Linked DNA regions of Homo sapiens. The protein of the gene in region 1 purifies or fractionates together with the protein of each later gene. This does not show direct contact. Each region holds a gene or a part of one and is shown in the gene's direction. Other genes may lie near its edges.

Region 1 (3,708 bases):
GGAAAATTCCCTTGCAATCTATCCACATTGTTGGGCATATCAATAGCTCATTCTTTTTTATTGCTGAGTTATATTCCATGATATGGATGAATTACAGTTTCTTTATCCATTCACCCATTGAAGTACATTTGGGTTGTTTCCGATTTTTGACTATTAGAAGTAAAGCTGCTTTGAACAATTTGTATACAGGTTTTTGTAAGAACATATGTTTTTATTTCTCTGGGATAAATGCCCAAGAGTACAATTGCTGGGTCATATGGTACGCACATATTTAGTTTTGTAAGAAATTGTCATACTGTTTTCCAGAGTGGCTGTACCATTTTACACTCTTAACAGCAATGTCTGAGTGTTCTAGTCTCCAGTTCCTCACCAGCATTTGGTGTTGTCATATTTATTTCTTTTATTTTAACCATACCAATAGGTGTGTAGTGATATCTCATTGTGGTTTTAATTTGCATTTCCCTAGTGACTAATGACATTGAATATCTTCTCTTGTGCTTATTTGCCATCTGTATATCCTCTTCAGTGAAATGTCTAATCATGTCTTATGACCATGTTCTAATTGGGTTGCTTGTTATTTTACTGTTTTGTTTTGAGAGTTCTTTATATATCCTAGATACAAGTCCTTTGTCAGGTACTTGGTTTGCAAATATTCTCCTCCAGTATGTAGTCTTTTCCTCTTCTTCACAGGGTCTTTTGAAGAGTAAACATTTTTAATTTTGACAGCGTCCAGTTCCTCACTGGATCATCTTTTTTTTTTTTTTTTTTTAGATGGAGTTGCGCTCTGTCGCCCAAGCTGGAGTGCAGTGGCTCCATCTCGGCTCACTGTAACGTCCACCTCCTGGGTTCAAGCGATTCTCCTGCCTCAGCCTCCCAAGTAGCTGGGACTTCAGGCATGCACAACCACCACTGGCTAATTTTTGTAATTTTAGTAGATATGGGGTTTCACCATGTTGGCCAGGCTGGTCTCAAACTCCTGACCTCAAGTGATCCTCCTGCCTCGATGTCCCAAAGTGCTGGGATTACAGGCGTGAGCCACTGTGCCCAGCCTGGATCATGCTTTTGGTGTCAACTCTAAGATCTCTTTGCCTCACCCTAGATCCTGAAGATTTTTTCCTGTTTTTTTTTAAGAGGTTTATAGTTTTCTGTCTTACATTTATGTCTTTGATCCATTTTGAGTTAATCTCATCTAAGGTATGAGGTTTAAATCAAGATTCAGTTTTTTTGCATGTGGATGTCTAATTATTCTAGCACCATTTGAACAACCCCCTGTTGAAAAGCAATTTGGCAATATTTATCATAATCCACAAGAACGTTCATAGCTTTTTTTCCTGTCACTTCTGGGAATTCATCCTAAAGAATAATGCAGAAACTTTTAAAAAAAAAAAAAAAAAGCTATAAGCTTAGAAAATATTCACTGTAACATTTTTTATAAAATTGAAAAATTGGAAGTAATCTAAATACCTAACAATAGGAGACTGGTTAAGTATGGCACACACATGAAATAATATGCAACATTTAAAAATATGTTTACTCAATAACTTTCACCCATTCAGCAAATGTTTACTCCATATCCATATGTGTTCGTGCTGAAGATAACATGGTGAGCAAATTAGACATCATCCCTGCCTTCTCAAAGCTCATAGTCTAGAAGAGAGGATAGAGAAAACAATTCTGGCACTTAGAAAAATAGATTTGCTAAACTAGAGGGAAAAAACAGAAAACAAAATTGCATGCACAAGGTTATTGAAACTATGTTAAAATATATGGGTGTAGGAAAAAATCATTCTTTAAGGCGATTGGATCGAAGACAGGTTTTTTTCACCCTGCTTTCCATACCTTCCATAGTATTTTCTTTTTATGATAATAACAGCAGTAAAGAGCAAAGCTTCAATTGCAAAATAGCTTCTTGCCACGAAAAGGTTAGGAATGTCCATTTGAAGAGGCAGCAGGCTCCCGTACAGCAATCCAAAGGGCATGGAAAAGGCCACAGCAGACAGTGAGGTAGCTGGTGCCCAGCTAAGTCATGCTGGATTATTCAGTCCATCAGCAAGTATCCACAGAGCGTCCACAAGGTAACCGGTATCCCATGAGGCACTCAGAATGCTTGTTTAAGAATAGACAGTCCCTGAGCTCTAGAGGCACTTATAAGAAATTCTGATCTCCATCTTCCTCAGGCTTGCCTGGTCCTTCACACCTCACAATGTGCTACCATGTATACGCCCTCATACAATACTCACAACAAACCTGTAAAGTTGTCAGGGAGAATCTAATTATCCCCATTTGTTAGCCACTAAGGCACAGAGAGCTTGAGCAACTTGCCCAAGCTCACACAGATAGTAAATGACAGGCCGGGGGCTTGGACCTGGCCTCCCATCGCTAAGGCCAATGCTGTTCTCAGAATACCACAACTGCCTCAAGAACAGCTGTGATAACAGAGGGCTCAGAGCAAAGGAATAATTAGCAGAGAGCCATCATTAGAACTGAAGTCATGGGGATGAGAAGGCACCGCCTACCACTTCTGGGCCTTTTGGCCAAGATCAAGTGTAGGAAGCATGAGCTACGGCAGGGGGTGGGCTCCCCTCCCCTGGGGTGGTGGGGGCTGGGGGTCCAGGCAGTGAGGGAAATGGGATGCAAACACCTGGGCTCACCTCTCCTCCCTCTCCACAGATGGTGAAGGCAATCCAGGTCCTGAGAATCCACCTGCTGGAGCTGGAGAAAGTCAATGAACTCTGCAAGGACTTTTGTAACCGTTACATCACCTGCCTCAAAACCAAGATGCACAGCGACAACCTGCTCAGGAATGATCTAGGGGGGCCCTACTCCCCCAACCAGCCCTCCATCAACCTTCACTCACAGGTAACACCCAGAGCTGGGTCCCATCTCTTAAGCCAGGCTCCTAAGCCCAGCTCTGGAGCCACGCGTGGAGGAAGGTCCCCTGGTGACCTTCACTGGGTTAGACCCACTGGGTTCCTTTGCCATGAGGGCCCTCCTCTGATGCACTCTTCTTCATATCCATTAGGCCATCCCATCCCTTTTTTACACACAGTCTGCCCTGCCAGGGCATTAGTATTCCCTTGAAAATGACCAGATCGGAGAGGGACAATGTCCAAAATCATTCCTGGCTTCCTGGCCCAAGGTATCCCCCAGAATGAGCACCAGAGCTAAGGAGAAGGAAAGCTCTCCTGGAGGATGAGCTGGGACAGGCTTCTTAAGAGGCTGCGGCTTGCTGAGCCATCTGCATTTCTGGGAAAGGGCATTTGGGGAAAGCAGTCATTCCCTGAATCCTGCCCACCTAATGGGTGAAGCCAGCTTCCCATGGGCCTGCTGCTCCCTAATCATTCTCCAGGCACTCACGCTACTCTGGCATCTCTGTCCCCCTAAGGTTCAGGGCCATGGTCAAGGTCACCTCAAACCACCCTGTTCCCAGGTTCCCCTGCCACCTCCTTCCTGAGACCTGGGAAATGCAGAAATGCTGACTACACGCTTTGGGCAAGATGGGGTTTCCCCTCCAGGGCAGGATATTTTCCCCAAACCTACAAACCGAGAAAGCTGCCTGGCAATACCTTCCCGCCCAACTCACAGACATCTGCATAAGCCACAGGCTTGAGACTTTGTTCCCCTTCCACTGAGCTCCTGAGTCCTGGAAGACACCTGGAGGGTCCCCAAGGAGTCCTCTGTAGCCTCTTCTCATTAAACAATCAGGCA
Region 2 (3,642 bases), on another chromosome or scaffold:
CCTCTCTCTTAAGACCAGGGCTCCAGGGCAGGGCAGTGTCCTCTCCTCTTCAGACCTGCCCCGTGCCGTCCTTACAGGGACCTTTGCTGTCATGTCTGTGATGGTGGGCAGTGTGACAGAATCCCTGGCCCCGCAGGCCTTGAACGACTCCATGATCAATGAGACAGCCAGAGATGCTGCCCGGGTACAGGTGGCCTCCACACTCAGTGTCCTGGTTGGCCTCTTCCAGGTGTGGAACAGTCAGGAGTATGTGCCCCCCACCACCACTTCTGCTCCCGCCACTGTCCTGTCTGTACTCCCCTGAGTGTCTGACCATCGTCGTCCTCCTCTTGCCGTCTACTCATCCCCCTCCCATCCCACTTGCCCTGCGCTCCTCATTAGCAACCCCAGGACCCCTGCCTCTCCTGACTGCCCCTGGCCGCCCCACAGGTGGGGCTGGGCCTGATCCACTTCGGCTTCGTGGTCACCTACCTGTCAGAACCTCTTGTCCGAGGCTATACCACAGCTGCAGCTGTGCAGGTCTTCGTCTCACAGCTCAAGTATGTGTTTGGCCTCCATCTGAGCAGCCACTCTGGGCCACTGTCCCTCATCTATGTGAGTGAGGGTAGGGGGAGGGAGGGGTAGGTGTGCCCCATGGCCTTGAGTGCTAGCTGTGACCTGGCCTCTCCTCAGACAGTGCTGGAGGTCTGCTGGAAGCTGCCCCAGAGCAAGGTTGGCACCGTGGTCACTGCAGCTGTGGCTGGGGTGGTGCTCGTGGTGGTGAAGCTGTTGAATGACAAGCTGCAGCAGCAGCTGCCCATGCCGATACCCGGGGAGCTGCTCACGGTTCGAGGGCCAGGGAGTGGAGGGCAGGGGAGAAGGGCAGGTCAGGCTGGGTCCTTGCCACGTGGGCAGCCTCCTGTATTTGAGGGCCAGCTGGAGGGGGGCTGGGAGGGTTCTTGGGTATTGTGGGGGGCACAGCAGAAAGCCCCTATGTTGGTTTCTTCCTGCCCCTGACAGCATCTCCCCATAGCCGAAATGGTGTTGCCTGTCTCTCACCCTACGTGACTTTTTCCCACCCTCGAAGAAGGTTTTGCCCAGTATCTCCCTCCTCACCTCACAGTGGTTTATGTGTCCCCCTGACCATGGTGCCAGCACCTGCCTCCCTGACTCTGTCCTCTCCCACAGCTCATCGGGGCCACAGGCATCTCCTATGGCATGGGTCTAAAGCACAGATTTGAGGTAGATGTCGTGGGCAACATCCCTGCAGGGTGAGCTCTGGCCTCCATCAGGTCAGGGAGGGTTGGGCAGCCAGGACAGGACCTTGCTTTGGCCTCACAGATACCTCTCACAGGCTGGTGCCCCCAGTGGCCCCCAACACCCAGCTGTTCTCAAAGCTCGTGGGCAGCGCCTTCACCATCGCTGTGGTTGGGTTTGCCATTGCCATCTCACTGGGGAAGATCTTCGCCCTGAGGCACGGCTACCGGGTGGACAGCAACCAGGTCTGGGTGATGCGGGATGTGTAGGAGGCATCCAAGTGTATGGAGGCGCCAGCAACGGGTGGGGGAGGAACCGGTGGGACACAGGGAGACAGCAGATGTGCTGAGGCCACGTGGGGGACTGAGGGTGGGAGAGCAGGACGTGTGGGACAGCATCCAGTCTCTGGGGGCCACTTGGTGGGGATGGAGATTGGGGATGCACAGGCCTAGATACAGTGGAACAGTGACCAGCCACTTCTAGGAAGTCTTCTCACACCCGTACTGTCCCCCGTCAGGAGCTGGTGGCCCTGGGCCTCAGTAACCTTATCGGAGGCATCTTCCAGTGCTTCCCCGTGAGTTGCTCTATGTCTCGGAGCCTGGTACAGGAGAGCACCGGGGGCAACTCGCAGGTGGGCTTTGGGTGTGGGCATGGGTGTGGGCATGCACATTGCTTTGCCTGGGGAAGGAGGTCTCTCCCCTGCTCACTCCCTCCCCGAACAGGTTGCTGGAGCCATCTCTTCCCTTTTCATCCTCCTCATCATTGTCAAACTTGGGGAACTCTTCCATGACCTGCCCAAGGTGAGCCCCCACCCAGCCAGGTTTCAGGTCTTGGCCAGGCCAGGGCTCTCAAATCAGCCAGTCTAGGTTCAGGCGAGGGGTGGGGACACAAGGTTAGGTTCTGTTTTTCAAGGCTGAGATCTTCAAGGTGAGATTTGGAGACAAGGGTCAGGGGCTGGGTGGGGGTTTGTGTCTGGGGTACTGCCTGAGTGCTTGGGCTTAGTCTGGCTTTGCCTCGGTGAGGAGGGTTGTCAGCATCGGGTGCCCTCAATGGCCCCTGGTGGCACTGTCCCCACCCCAGGCGGTCCTGGCAGCCATCATCATTGTGAACCTGAAGGGCATGCTGAGGCAGCTCAGCGACATGCGCTCCCTCTGGAAGGCCAATCGGGCGGATCTGGTGAGTGCACTGGGAGCCCAGGGCAGGGACTGGGCAGCCCCATGGCTCCTCGCCGCCCTCCAACCGCTGCCCTCTGTTCTCAGCTTATCTGGCTGGTGACCTTCACGGCCACCATCTTGCTGAACCTGGACCTTGGCTTGGTGGTTGCGGTCATCTTCTCCCTGCTGCTCGTGGTGGTCCGGACACAGATGTGAGTCCGCCATGTTGGTCCCCTCATTCCAGCTAGTGAGAGAGTACCACAGGGCTCCCCGCAGCTTTCCCCACATCTCTGGGGACTTCAGGCTCCTTCGGACCCCTCTGTTATCCCCTTTTTCTGCCCCCTCTTCGTGCATTCTCTCTCTCCTTCACAGGCCCCACTACTCTGTCCTGGGGCAGGTGCCAGACACGGATATTTACAGAGATGTGGCAGAGTACTCAGAGGTGAGTGTCAGGGGCTGAGTGAGATGGTGTGGATGGGGAGACGGAGGAAGAATGAGCCTTTGTGGATTCGTTCCACACTTGGCCAGGGAACTGGGGGCTGAGGATACTTTGGCTTTGGTCTTTGGGATTTCAAGGGAGGAGTTTAGGTCTATGACCCCCTCTAGAGGTATGAAGGGACAGAGGGAGAGTGGACAGAGATGGGTCTGGGGCTGGGGAGGGGTCTGTCGTGGAGTCAACAGCACAAGCTCCACCTGCAGAGCAGCCGTGGGTCAGAGAGCCGGAATGGCAGCTCCCTGGGGCGCCAGGTTGGAAGGGAGGCATTTCCTGATCTGATCAGTGGGGTTACTAAGTCCTCAGTCATCCATTTATCTCCTGAGAGGTCTTGGGCCAAGTGCTAGGAACATAGGTGGGGGGCTCTGGAATAAAACAAGGCTGTTGCCTGCAACATGGGCACAGTGCAATTAGGCAGTGCGGGGAGGAATTAAGGGGTCTGAGACATGGGAGAGGATGAGGGGGCAGCCCAGCCCTTACCATGCATGCCTGGAGCCCAGCAGAGACCCGGGCTGTGACCCGAATGGGGTGGGAGCGGGGAAGGTCTGATTGATATGACAGCCTAGGAGGACCTCTGTCTGGGTGCAGAAAACAGAACACAAGGCAGGGGTTGGAAACCCAAGAGAAAGGTTAAGAGCCTGTGAAGCCTGCCTGGGTGGTGGCAGGAGAGGTGGGGAGGGAGAGGCACTGTGGGGGGATGGGGATGACACCGTCGGGCTTGTGGCCTAAGCCCCTGGGAGGGCCTGGACTGCAGCCTGG
Region 3 (3,708 bases), on another chromosome or scaffold:
AACCTCCCAAAGTGCTGGGATTACAGGCATGAGCCACCATGCCTGTAATAGGCCATTTCCCCTGTTATTAACATTTTGCATTAGTATGTCATATTTTGTTACAACTGATGAGCCAATGTTCATGTGTTATTATAAACTAAAGTACACAATTTACATGAGGGTTCACTCTTTGCATATCCTGTTTTGAATGCTAGTGCAACTTAACATGTTGTCTTTTGACTAGAAACGTCTATTGTATGTGTCTATTTATCTAGGGTAAATACAAACATTTGAAAAAAAAAGAATTTATGTGAATTCAGGGTCTTGTCTTTTCCTGAACTGGTTTTTATTCTGAGACTGAGTCTTGCTCTTGCCTAGGCTGGAGTGCACTGGCATGATCTTGGCTCACTGCAACCTCTGCCTCCTAGACTCAAGTGATTCTCCTGCCTCATCTTCCTGAGTAGCCGGGACTACAGGCATGAGCCACCATGCCCGGCTAATGTTTTTTTTTTGTATTTTTTAGTAGAGAACAGGGTTTCACCATGTTGGCCAGGTTGGTCTTGAACTCCTGACCTCAAGTGATCTGCCCACCTCTGCCTCCCAAAGTACAGGCATGAGCCACCACACCTGGAATGAACTGGTTTTTAAATCTATCTTTGCCCTAGGGAGTGCCAGCTGACATTATGATCTTTCTTAAATATTGGGCTGTACTTTTTTTGTTGCTATTTTCACATTCAGGATCTCATTTGGCAGTCAACTCTTACCCACCATGCCAGCCTCTGCACCTAACATCCTTTCTCATACTTCTGGTGCTTTTTAGACCTCCCAACAAATAGAATGGGGGTGCTACGTGGGAACAGGTTGCTTTCCTGGGTAATAGTAGAGTCAGCTGGGGATCCTACTTGTTTGATTTTGAGTTAAGCAATTGAGTTCAAGGTTTAGGGAAGAGGCAGAGTTTTTCCTAATTGTGCTCTGGGGCTCCTCCCTGGGGCAGGGACTTAGAGAGGCTCGGTAAGAACAGACCAAAGCTTGACCCCCTTCTCGTCACAGAAGCTTTCCCATCTCGATCCTCCCTCACGTGAGGCTTCTCTGCTTGGCCCTCATCCATTTGGCTGACCTTGACTGTGTTAGGACAAACCACTGTTTCATGTAGTTCATTTGAGTTAATTCTAGAATTTTTCTTTTTCTTTTTTTTTTTGAGACAGAGTTTTGCTCTTGTTGCCCAGGCTGGAGTGCAATGGTGCCATCTCGGCTCACTGCAAGCCCTGCCTCCCCGGTTCAAGCGATTCTCCTACCTCAGCCTACCAAGTAGCTGGGATTACAGGTGCCCGCCACCAATTTTTTAAATATTTTTAGCAGAGATGGGGTTTCACCACGTTGGCCAGGCTGGTTTTGAATTCCTGACCGCAAGCCATCCACCCGCCTTGGCCTCCCAAAGTGCTAGGATTACAGGCATGAGCCACTGTGACTGGCCAATTCTAGAATTTTTCAAAGGGAACATTTTTCTTTAAGGAAAATGGAAACAAAGTGAAACATATGGAAAGGTAGTTTATAGAAATTGATTTCTTTCTAAGGAATAGACTTGCTGCTTTCTTCCATGAGCCAGTTTCAGCACAGAATGTAGCCCATTTCTGCCGTCTGCATCCCCATGTGTCCTCATTTTCCCTCCCATCTCTGGTGAGAAAGAGTAGGAGTCTCTCTGTTCTTGAAGACAGGGAACTGTTTTTTTTTTTCTTTCTTTTTTCTTTTTTTTGAGACAGTCTTACTCTGTCACCCAGGCTGGAGTGCAGTGGTGCGATCTCGGCACACTGCAACCTCTGCCTCCTGGGTTCAAGTGATTCTCCTGCCTCAATCTCCTGAGTAGCTGGGATTACAGGTACCAAGCGTGGCTAATTTTTGTATTTTTAGTAGAGACAGGGTCTCACCATGTTGGCCAAGCTGGTCTTGAACTCCTGATCTCAAATGATCCACCTGCCTCGGCCTCCCAAAGTGCTGGGAATACAGGCGTGGAACCACAGCCCCCGGCCATAATTTTCCAAAACCACTTTCTCTTGCTTTTCAGCCTTTGCATATGCTCTGTACCCCTCTAACCCCATGCTTTTCCTCCACTTTGCCTACCTCTTCACAACACCTGGCATGCTTTAGGTCTTAGCCCTAAACTTCTAAACTTGTAAAAAGCCTACTTCAGGTTGCTCCAGTTGTGAAATCTAGCTCCCCTTTCATGGCATTTGCCACATTAGATTGTAATTGCCTGTTTCTTGCCTTTATCACCCCCATGGACTGTCAGCTCTATAGAGGGCAAGAATTGTAACTGCCTCATTTGCAGTAGAATATCCAGGGATTAGCACAGTATCTGGCACATAGAACATATGCAATAATTATTTGTTGAAAGACTGACTGAATAAAATGTGTCCAGAATGGGAGGTAAAAGGCCATGTATACTGGCCATTCTGAGTTGAAATTAACCAACTTAACTAAGCTTATAAATGTGCTGACTAAATTCAATTGAAACATCATTAAACCCACACCATGTGCTAGGAAATGTATAGGTTATGTGCTGATTGATATAATGCTACAGGTTTTTGTTTCCTGTTTCCAAAAGTGTGCATATGTTGTGAAAATGACAGACATTGCAAACATATAAATTGTGGATGAAAATCTGTTATAATTTCATTCCCCACAAAAAACCATTGTGAACAGCTTGGTATATGTTGCTCCAAATTTAAGCAAAAGTTTACTTACCATAAGTGTTTTCTTGTTTTGTATTATTCTATTATAGCTTTTCAATGTTTTCCCATAAAAATCGACCTTATTTTATCACTGTTCCGTAATTAACCAATCATGTGCTGATGGACAGTTGGTTTCTTTTTTTCTTTACTAGAAACAGCACTGCAATGAATATCATTGTACCTATACTTTTGCATACTTATGTATATAAGCTCAGTTTCTGTAAGCAGAGCTGCTTAGTTAAAGGGTAGGAATGTCATGCCTGTAATCCCAGCACTTTGGGAGGCCGAGGCAGGCGGATTACCTGGGATCAGGAGTTCGAGACCAGCCTGACCAACATGGTGAAACCCCATCTCTGCTAAAAATACAGAAAATTAGCCGGGCGTGGTGGCAGGCGCCTGTAATGCCAGCTACTTGGGAGGCTGAGGCAGGAGAATCACTTGAACCCAGGAGGCAGAGGTTGCACTGAGCCGAGATCGCGCCACTGCACTCAAGCCTGGGCGTGACAGAGCGAGACCCCGTCTCAAAAAATAAATAGATAAAACAAAGGGTAGGAATGTTTTAAATGTTAATAGATTGCAAAGTGACCATCCAGAGAAGCTGTACTAAGAGACAGTGATACACTTGGGGAGAAGAGAGAGCAAGGAAGAACCTTGAGCTCACAGCCAAGCTCTGTGAGGCAAGTGTGAGCAGTGCTGTGATTAGGAGCAGTGGGAGTTAGGGGGAGGGTGTGATTGGCTTCTGCCTGGGGGAAGGTTTCATGGAGGGGAATGTTCCTTTTACCTGTACTTTATTATTTTTTTTGAGACAGAATTTCACTCTTGTCATCCAGGCCGGAGTGCAATGGCGGGATCTCAGCTCCCTGCAACCTCCCCCTCCGGGGTTCAAGTGATTCTCCTGCTTCAGCCTCCCAAGTAGCTGGGATTACAGGCACCTGCCACCATGCCCGGCTAATTTTTGTATTTTTAGTAAAGATGGGGTTTCACCATGTTGGCCAGGCTC
Region 4 (3,708 bases), on another chromosome or scaffold:
CTACTTGGATAAGGAGTTCAGCAAAGCTCAGAAGGTACCTCCCTCCACCCACCCATCCACCTACCCATCCACCCTTGCTTCTACCTATCTGACTCATTCATCCCTCCAGTGAGCACCTACAGTGAACCAGACCTAATGTTGCATGCTGTTTTCACGTAGTCATTTAAAGGATTCTCAATGGAATTCTCTTTAGTTGCTAATTTTACCTAATCCTGCTTAATTTAGTGATTAATTTTAATTTACTTTTAATTCATTTCTAATTTCAGTTACTCATTCTCATTCACTGACTTTTAATTAAATATTCAAATCTATCAGTAAATCTACCTCGAATCTGCCTCCCATCCTCTACTCACACTCCTGCCTTGTGCTCCTACTTCCCATCTCTGTCCTGGTCCAGTTGGGAAAATGAGAGCAAACCCACCTCTCAGATCCTCTAAAGATGAGATAGGATATAACCTATTGTGGCCCCTCAAGACATTCGAGGTGCTCCTTTGTCACTGCTCTGTCCCCATATCTAGCCATACCTAGCACAATGTTAATACATAATATGTGCTCAATAAATATTTGTTGGATGAACGAATACAGTATGCAGAAAATCCGACAGTCAGGAAGCTGCACTTCTCTTTGGTAGGATGCTGATTCCCCTAAGCTGGCAATGCTCTTGGCTGCCCAGTAGGGGAGCGACAGTTTCCACACTGCGTGGGAGGGACCCACAGAGACATGTATGGACAGATGTAGCAATGAAGCCACAGTTTCTGAGTCTGGAGATCCAGCCCATAAATGGTTAAATACCAGGGCATCTCCCTACCTCCCCTGTCCCCCCACCAGCCTCAAGAGCTTCCAAGAAAGGATGATTTATGTGTGCTGGGGCCCCAGGGCAAGACTTGCATTCATTCACTCACTCACACACTCATTCCATCATTCCTTTGGGCTCCAAATTGTCACACATGTTCTGTGGTTGAAGATGCTCCCATCCTGCAACCCCTGTCATCCTTGTCCTCCCAAAACGCTTGGCACAATTGTCTCCATATCCTAGTAAGGCAGTCCATCTCTGTTCACTTTAGCTCTCTTCCCACCCACCCCCACTTTAGGCACTGAGCAAGAGCAAGAAAGCTCAGGTAAGGGGATCCCTTGTGGGTGAGTGTGACTGGGAGATGTCTTGGTGGGCTATTTCTGTATGCTGATATTTCCTTGTACTGGCCTTTCTTTCTTTGTGTGCCTTTACATCTGCTACTACCTCACTGCCATGTGTTGCTGTATCTGTCCTTGTTTCCCTGTATTTGTCCTAACTCTGTGTCTCTTTCCTTCTCTCTCTTTCCATTCTTTTCTCTGAGTCTCTTTCTGTCTCTGTCTGTTTTCCTGTTCCTGTCTCTCTGACTCATTTCTCTTCCCAATCTTCTCTTTGTCTCTCCCCCTCCTGTTCCTGTCTCGGTGATTTCTCTTTTTTCTGCTTTCTCTCTCTAACTCCTTGTTTCTTCCACCCCATTCCTCTCTCTTCCTAACTCATTTCTTTTCCTGACCCCTCCTCTTCTCCCTGTTCTGTTCTCTCCCTGTTGATTTCTGTTTGTTCTTCTCTCCGTCTTTTTCACTCTCTCCCTCCCAATCCCTCTCCCCTTTTCTATCTCTCCCCCTTTCCCCATCTCTACTTCCTCTCTCCCCAATCATTATCTTCCTGTCTTTTCCTCCGCTCTCTTCCTCCCTGTATTCCCTTCTCTCTACCTTCCCATGTCTTTATCTTCCTTTCCCTGTCTCTCATTTTATCCCTCCCCATGTCTCTTTCTCCTATATCACCTCATTCTCTGTACCCTATGTCCTCTCCCACCCATGTCATTTTCTCCCTCTCTCTGTTTCTTTGCCCTACCTCCCTATCCTTTTTGCCCTTGCTGGAGTCCTGGCCCTTGTCTGCCACTGCAGGAAGTCGAGGTATTGCTGAGTGAAAATGAGATGCTGCAGGCAAAGCTGCACAGCCAGGAGGAGGACTTCCGTTTGCAGAACAGCACACTAATGGCCGAGTTCAGCAAGGTGCTGGTGCCTGGGATAGTCAAAGGGGAAATGAGGGGTAGGGGTCATCTGGGCTGAAACCTAACAGCGGCAGAGAGTGATTGGACAGGGTCTGGCCCTGGAGCACTGTCCGTGGTGCTGAAACAGGTCCTGGATTGCTGCTGGGGGGCAGTAATTTGACAGATGGGGCCGCTCACTCTGCTGGGATTAGAAGGCTTTGAGCCCTGAGGTCACCTGGTTCCTGGCCAAGTCACTCCTTTTATTTGAGCTTCAAGTCTCCATGTGTATAATGTGGGGTTGATGCTGTGGTGCTCCAAGGTGTTGGGGGGTTTTAGGCAGAGTTCTTATGCTTAATATAGGATGGAAAAGTGTTCGAGCTTCTTCCCTTTTCTCTTTCTTCTCTTCATCTGACATGAGCCTGGGGTTCTACCTCTTCCAGATAATTCATCCTGGAGCTACTAATTCTATCTCCCCATTGATTTTAGTGTCCTGTCTGTTTCTAAATCTACTGGGCAGTTGGAGACATTGTCTTTTGTTCCCTCATCTATCTTCTGTATCCACAGTTGATAATTGTCTATGTTTTTAGTGTGTTTTAAGGAAAAAAGTCTCATGGCAGCAAATTTTTTTGAGATGGAGTTTCACTCTCATTGTCCAGGCTGGAGTGCAATGGCATGATCTCAGCTCACTGCAACCTCTGCCTCCTGGGTTCAAGCGATTCTCCTGCCTCAGCCTCCCAAGTAGCTGGAAGTACAGGCATATGCCACCATGCCTGGCTAACTTTGTATTTTTAGTAGAGATGAGAGAAAATGACATGGGTGGGAGAGGACATTTAGTAGAGAAAATGACCATGTTGGTCAGGCTGGTCCTGAACTCCCGACTTCAGGTGATCCACCCGTCTTGGCCTCCCAAAGTGTTGGGATTAAAGGCGTGAGCCACCGCGCCCGGCCCAAAAATGGTATTTCTAAGGCTCCATCTGAGAATATAGTGCCTATGACCTTAAAAAAACAAAACCGAAAATAACCTTTAAGCAGGTACAATACCAGGAGAGGCAGTTGAGCAAGTAGTAGGTACCAGCAGGGACTCTGGAACCAGAAGGCCTAGATTAAAATCTTGGCTCTACCTTTTACTAACTGTAACCTTGAGGAAGTTACTTAACTTGCCTGGTTCTTGGTTCCCAAATGTTTAAAATGGAAGTCATGATAATAACAGTACCTGCCTCTTCACAGGGCTTTTGTGAGGATTAAATGAATAAATGTACGTAAATCACTTAAAACAGAGCCTTGCACATAGTATCAGCTATGGAAGCATTAGTTATAATATTATCCTTCTATTAACTCATCTTCCCTCTAAAATATTTGACTTTTTAAAAGTTTTATGGCCGGGCGTGGTGGCTCAGGCCTGTAATCCCAGCACTTTGGGAGGCCAAGGCAGGCAGATCATGAGGTCAGGAGATGGAGACCATCCTGGCTAACGTGGTAAAACCCCGTCTCTACTAAAAATACAAAAAATTAGCCGGGTGTGGTGGCACGTGCCTGTAGTCCCAGCTACTCGGGAGGCTGAGGCAGGAGAATCGCTTGAACCCGGGAGGCGGAGGTTGTAGTGAGCCAAGATTGCACCACTGCACTCCAGCCTGGGCGACAGAGCAAGACTCTGTCTCAATTTAAAAAAAAAAAGTTTTATATCCACCCTGTGGCCCTGCTTTGCCTT
Region 5 (3,708 bases), on another chromosome or scaffold:
GCAACACGTCTGTCTTAATCTTTCTTCTTCATCTATAGTTTGGGTTACACTTCTCAAACTGTGGCTGACTTGATTTTTAAATGAAGAAAGCACAGAAAATAAAGTAGGTATTTTTACTAATTAGCTTTGTGACTTCTGACCACTATCCTGCATGTTACTTTAAAATAACAGACACAAAAGAAAAGCTATGAAAAATTATAAGAATAACAGAAAACATTAATATTAAAATTGTCGCTTATTTCAAAGCAGTCAAGAATTCAGGGCCTGCTGAAAATATCTCATCTGGCCTTGTTTTACATGGCACTCTGCTAAAACATTTTTCTCTGAGCTAAGACTGTGGTGTGGTAGTTGAATGAATCAAAAAACAAGTCCATCAGAAAACAAAATTACAGCGACGTCGTAGGCCTAAGCTTATGAATAATTTGGGGCCTAAATTTATGGTATGCTCATTAGGAGAAAAAAAAATCAAACAACTCAAGTTTCCATAATAGCTTTTTGTTTCTCAGCAGGTCTGAATAATGTACTCTTTACTAAGTAAAAGTGATGTGATGACAACTTTTATCATTATTATGGATATTATCTATCTTCCCTGATTATGGAAATATTGTAGGGCTAGATCTTAGTTACGTCTAATTCAGGACCACGTGTAGAACATATTTGAAATAGCTATGGTCTGAAGCCATACTCTTCAGTGCTGGATGAACAGAGGTTAGTCATGGTCCAGTGGGCTTGGTCCTTGAAATGAGGGAGCCACAAAGCTTAGTTAGTGCACTGTGTTGTTTGCACCTCATTCACTCAGGTCAAGCCTTCATTGTGTTACAGTGTTCTTCTGTTAGAAAGGCTCCTACTGTACAATCTAGCCAATGCAGATTTCTAATCTGCTTATTTATAATTCAAAAGCTTGCCTATATATTAATGAACCCTTAATGAGCTGTTGAAAATGCCTGAATTACAGTCAGATTATTAAACTCAAACAGCCCCGTAATCATACCATTTGAGTGGGCTTTAGGTACTTTTCACATCTGCAGCTTAGAATTGTGAAGGGTATGCGTTTATTCGGAGAAAGCTTTGTAATAATTTTGACCCGTAATTTATTTATTGCCCTCCAAATGCAGTCGTCTATGCAGATGCTCTCTCCCATTATCTGTGGGGCAGGTGCACAGCATGTTGAAAGACAGCTAATTAGGATTTGCTGAAAGATATGCAAAAACTGTAGGCTTATAACAAAGCCAAGTTCATTGTTAAACAATGTTTTACTGTGTTTGTATGATTTGTCTAAATCTTAGGGATACGGAAATGAATGTTGTGATTATAAGTAGATTGCAAATAGGGTTTATTTTTTAAACTTTATAATGTTGTGATGACCAAAGAACCTAGATGTAAACCTTTATAAACCTCTGTATGTTTCATTATACATACATTTTGGATTAAAAACAAGTACAATCAAATTTTAAATGATTGTTTTACCATGTTTCAATTTGAAGATATCAAGATATTTTGATAACCACACAGTCTGATTCATTCTGGCCCTTGCAAATTTAGACCCATTAAAATGTTTATAGGTGCCCAGAGGAGTAGGTATTATGACTAAAAGCCAGTGTAACTCTAGAAAGTTAGTAAACTAAGTAATAGTGAGTGGCTAGGTAGGTAGGATGAGGAATAAAATGGTAACTAAATGTTTTTAAGTAAGAAAATAAATAGAAATATTCAAATTGAAAGTAATTTTGGAAACCAGGTATTAGTATTTAAAGATCCCATAATCATTACTTTGCTTAATAAAGAAAAGAAACCGATTCACTTTTCAGACTAGTTATGAAAATTCCTTTATTATTGATAGTCTTCTTCTTGTTGCCTATTTGCAAAGTACTTTAGTACTTTTCATCTAAAGAACTATGAGTTTTCCGTCAGGAAATGATTTTTCTGATGAAATTTGATGCACATAATTTATAAAGTAAATACAAAGGATTGCATTAAAACATATTTTCCTGTTCTTGAGGCAAGCACTTAGTGTTGATTTACTGATAATTTTAGAAATAAGATATTTTTTCATTATAAGAGTAAAACGTTATAGTAATTGATACTGTATACTTATAATTGTTTTTATTTGTGTCCACGGCTTTTGAGCTTATGGATTGCTTCTTATTGGTACAATAATGATGGTTTATATACGTATTTATATACATATGTATAAAAGTATCATAGATGGCTAATTAGTTTTGTGCCTTTTGCATTTGTTCCTAATGAATTTCCTTCTGTCTCTCTTATGGTGTACTTCCTTGTATGTTTGTCATTGAGCTTCTTCTCTTGTTTGCCGTACATGTGCAGGGAAGTGTAATCATTTTGGGTATGGAAGTTAATCTGCTATTAAAGTACTTCACCACATGTCCATAGGGAAAAGATTAATGTGTTTAACTACAAGGGGAAAACTAGAAACCCGGAGGAAACTTGAAGGTAGATTAAAAAAACACATTTCAGGAGAGGCACCAGTGTCTATGTAAATACAAAAATCAACAAACACACAAAACTGTGGGCAAAAATTCAGTTGAAAATGGAGAAACTTGAGAAGTCCTCAAACAAGAATAAAAAATTAAACAATTCAAAGTGCAGCATAAGAGATTGCTCAGTAAGCTCTCATTGCATGCCAAATGCACAAAAAACTTGCTATGTGAACTACAAGCATGTACAGGTCGTGAGATTTTTAACATTTAACACAGTGAATTAAAAGAGAGGAAAATTAAAGATTTAAATTAAAAATGCAAACTTAACCAATACATGGCAGTTCTAGAACAATATTAGGCAGTCCCTTTTAGTTATAGAAGAAACAGCAAATACGTTTGCCTATTTTTAATTATCAGCAGTGTGTTGGTACGCATTTTATGAGTTATCTTTTTGCTCTCCTAAATGAATATATTGTCTTAGTATATTATAGTTTTCAAACCTTATTTGCCTCTGAATAGACAACAGATAAAATTTTAAATTATGGTGAGTTAGTTTTATTATCCAGTTGAAATTATTCTGAAGTATAATTTTAAATGAAAGTGACAGCTTTAAAGTGTTTTGGGGAAGAAATTAAAGTTTTGCATTTGTGTTAAGGCAACCAAGAGCTCTGTCATGCCATGGATGTAATTCAGGGCATCTAGGAATGAAATCTGTTCTTAAAAGAATTGACGGTAGCTTTAGGTTAGCATATAAAATCAGAGTTGGTGATCAGTTGAGTACTTGGCAGCTTATAGATGTTATGTCATGTAAGTTACACTAGACACAAAGTGTGTACCACTGTGGATAAACAACAACAGGCACAGACTCAAAAGAGAATCCAAATACAAACAAGCAAGGTGCCAACTTCCTTTTCCCCTCTTCCCCAAGAAGCCTTGTAACTAGTGTAGGGAACCTGCTTTGAAGCAGATTTACAGAGGTTAATTGGGCTGGGATGTTTTAGATTATGTTACACATTAATGAAAATGCTGATTTTGAGCTGTCATGACTCCAATGCTTTTTATACCATGATAATTATTTTAAAACTTTGTCTTCTGTGTTGTTGAAAACATTTTGGCAGAAAGCCTGTGTGACCTGATTAAACCTATGAATTGTCAGCTATGATCTATAGTACTCAGAAGAGGTTGCTGACTGGGCATCACTTAGGAAGTTCTTGATTTAAAAGCAAAATTAGATTGAGACTACTGTGCCCAGCACTGTATTGCCATGTCA

Evidence for each region.
Region 2: the proteins of PKNOX2 (region 1) and SLC26A6 purify together in Homo sapiens (affinity purification with mass spectrometry; one large-scale study listed by BioGRID and IntAct). This does not show direct contact.
Region 3: the proteins of PKNOX2 (region 1) and ALDH7A1 purify together in Homo sapiens (affinity purification with mass spectrometry; one large-scale study listed by BioGRID and IntAct). This does not show direct contact.
Region 4: the proteins of PKNOX2 (region 1) and GRIPAP1 purify together in Homo sapiens (affinity purification with mass spectrometry; one large-scale study listed by BioGRID and IntAct). This does not show direct contact.
Region 5: the proteins of PKNOX2 (region 1) and PBX3 purify together in Homo sapiens (affinity purification with mass spectrometry; one large-scale study listed by BioGRID and IntAct). This does not show direct contact.

The regions. Positions count from the first base shown.
Region 1 is NC_000011.10:125,395,204-125,398,911, forward strand, and holds part of PKNOX2 (homeobox protein PKNOX2), read left to right. Parts: intron 1-771; exon of another isoform or gene 772-893; intron 894-2,670; coding exon 2,671-2,859; intron 2,860-3,708.
Region 2 is NC_000003.12:48,628,832-48,632,473, reverse strand, and holds part of SLC26A6 (solute carrier family 26 member 6), read left to right. Parts: intron 1-77; coding exon 78-229; intron 230-381; coding exon of another isoform or gene 382-429; coding exon 430-594; intron 595-672; coding exon 673-825; intron 826-1,167; coding exon 1,168-1,250; intron 1,251-1,333; coding exon 1,334-1,481; intron 1,482-1,753; coding exon 1,754-1,867; intron 1,868-1,958; coding exon 1,959-2,036; intron 2,037-2,316; coding exon 2,317-2,412; intron 2,413-2,495; coding exon 2,496-2,602; intron 2,603-2,762; coding exon 2,763-2,832; intron 2,833-3,642. UniProt on the Homo sapiens protein: Apical membrane anion-exchanger with wide epithelial distribution that plays a role as a component of the pH buffering system for maintaining acid-base homeostasis.
Region 3 is NC_000005.10:126,585,101-126,588,808, reverse strand, and holds part of ALDH7A1 (alpha-aminoadipic semialdehyde dehydrogenase isoform 1 precursor), read left to right. Parts: intron 1-3,708.
Region 4 is NC_000023.11:48,995,564-48,999,271, reverse strand, and holds part of GRIPAP1 (GRIP1-associated protein 1), read left to right. Parts: coding exon 1-34; intron 35-1,091; coding exon 1,092-1,118; intron 1,119-1,914; coding exon 1,915-2,022; intron 2,023-3,708. UniProt on the Homo sapiens protein: Regulates the endosomal recycling back to the neuronal plasma membrane, possibly by connecting early and late recycling endosomal domains and promoting segregation of recycling endosomes from early endosomal membranes.
Region 5 is NC_000009.12:125,911,307-125,915,014, forward strand, and holds part of PBX3 (pre-B-cell leukemia transcription factor 3), read left to right. Parts: intron 1-3,708. UniProt on the Homo sapiens protein: Transcriptional activator that binds the sequence 5'-ATCAATCAA-3'.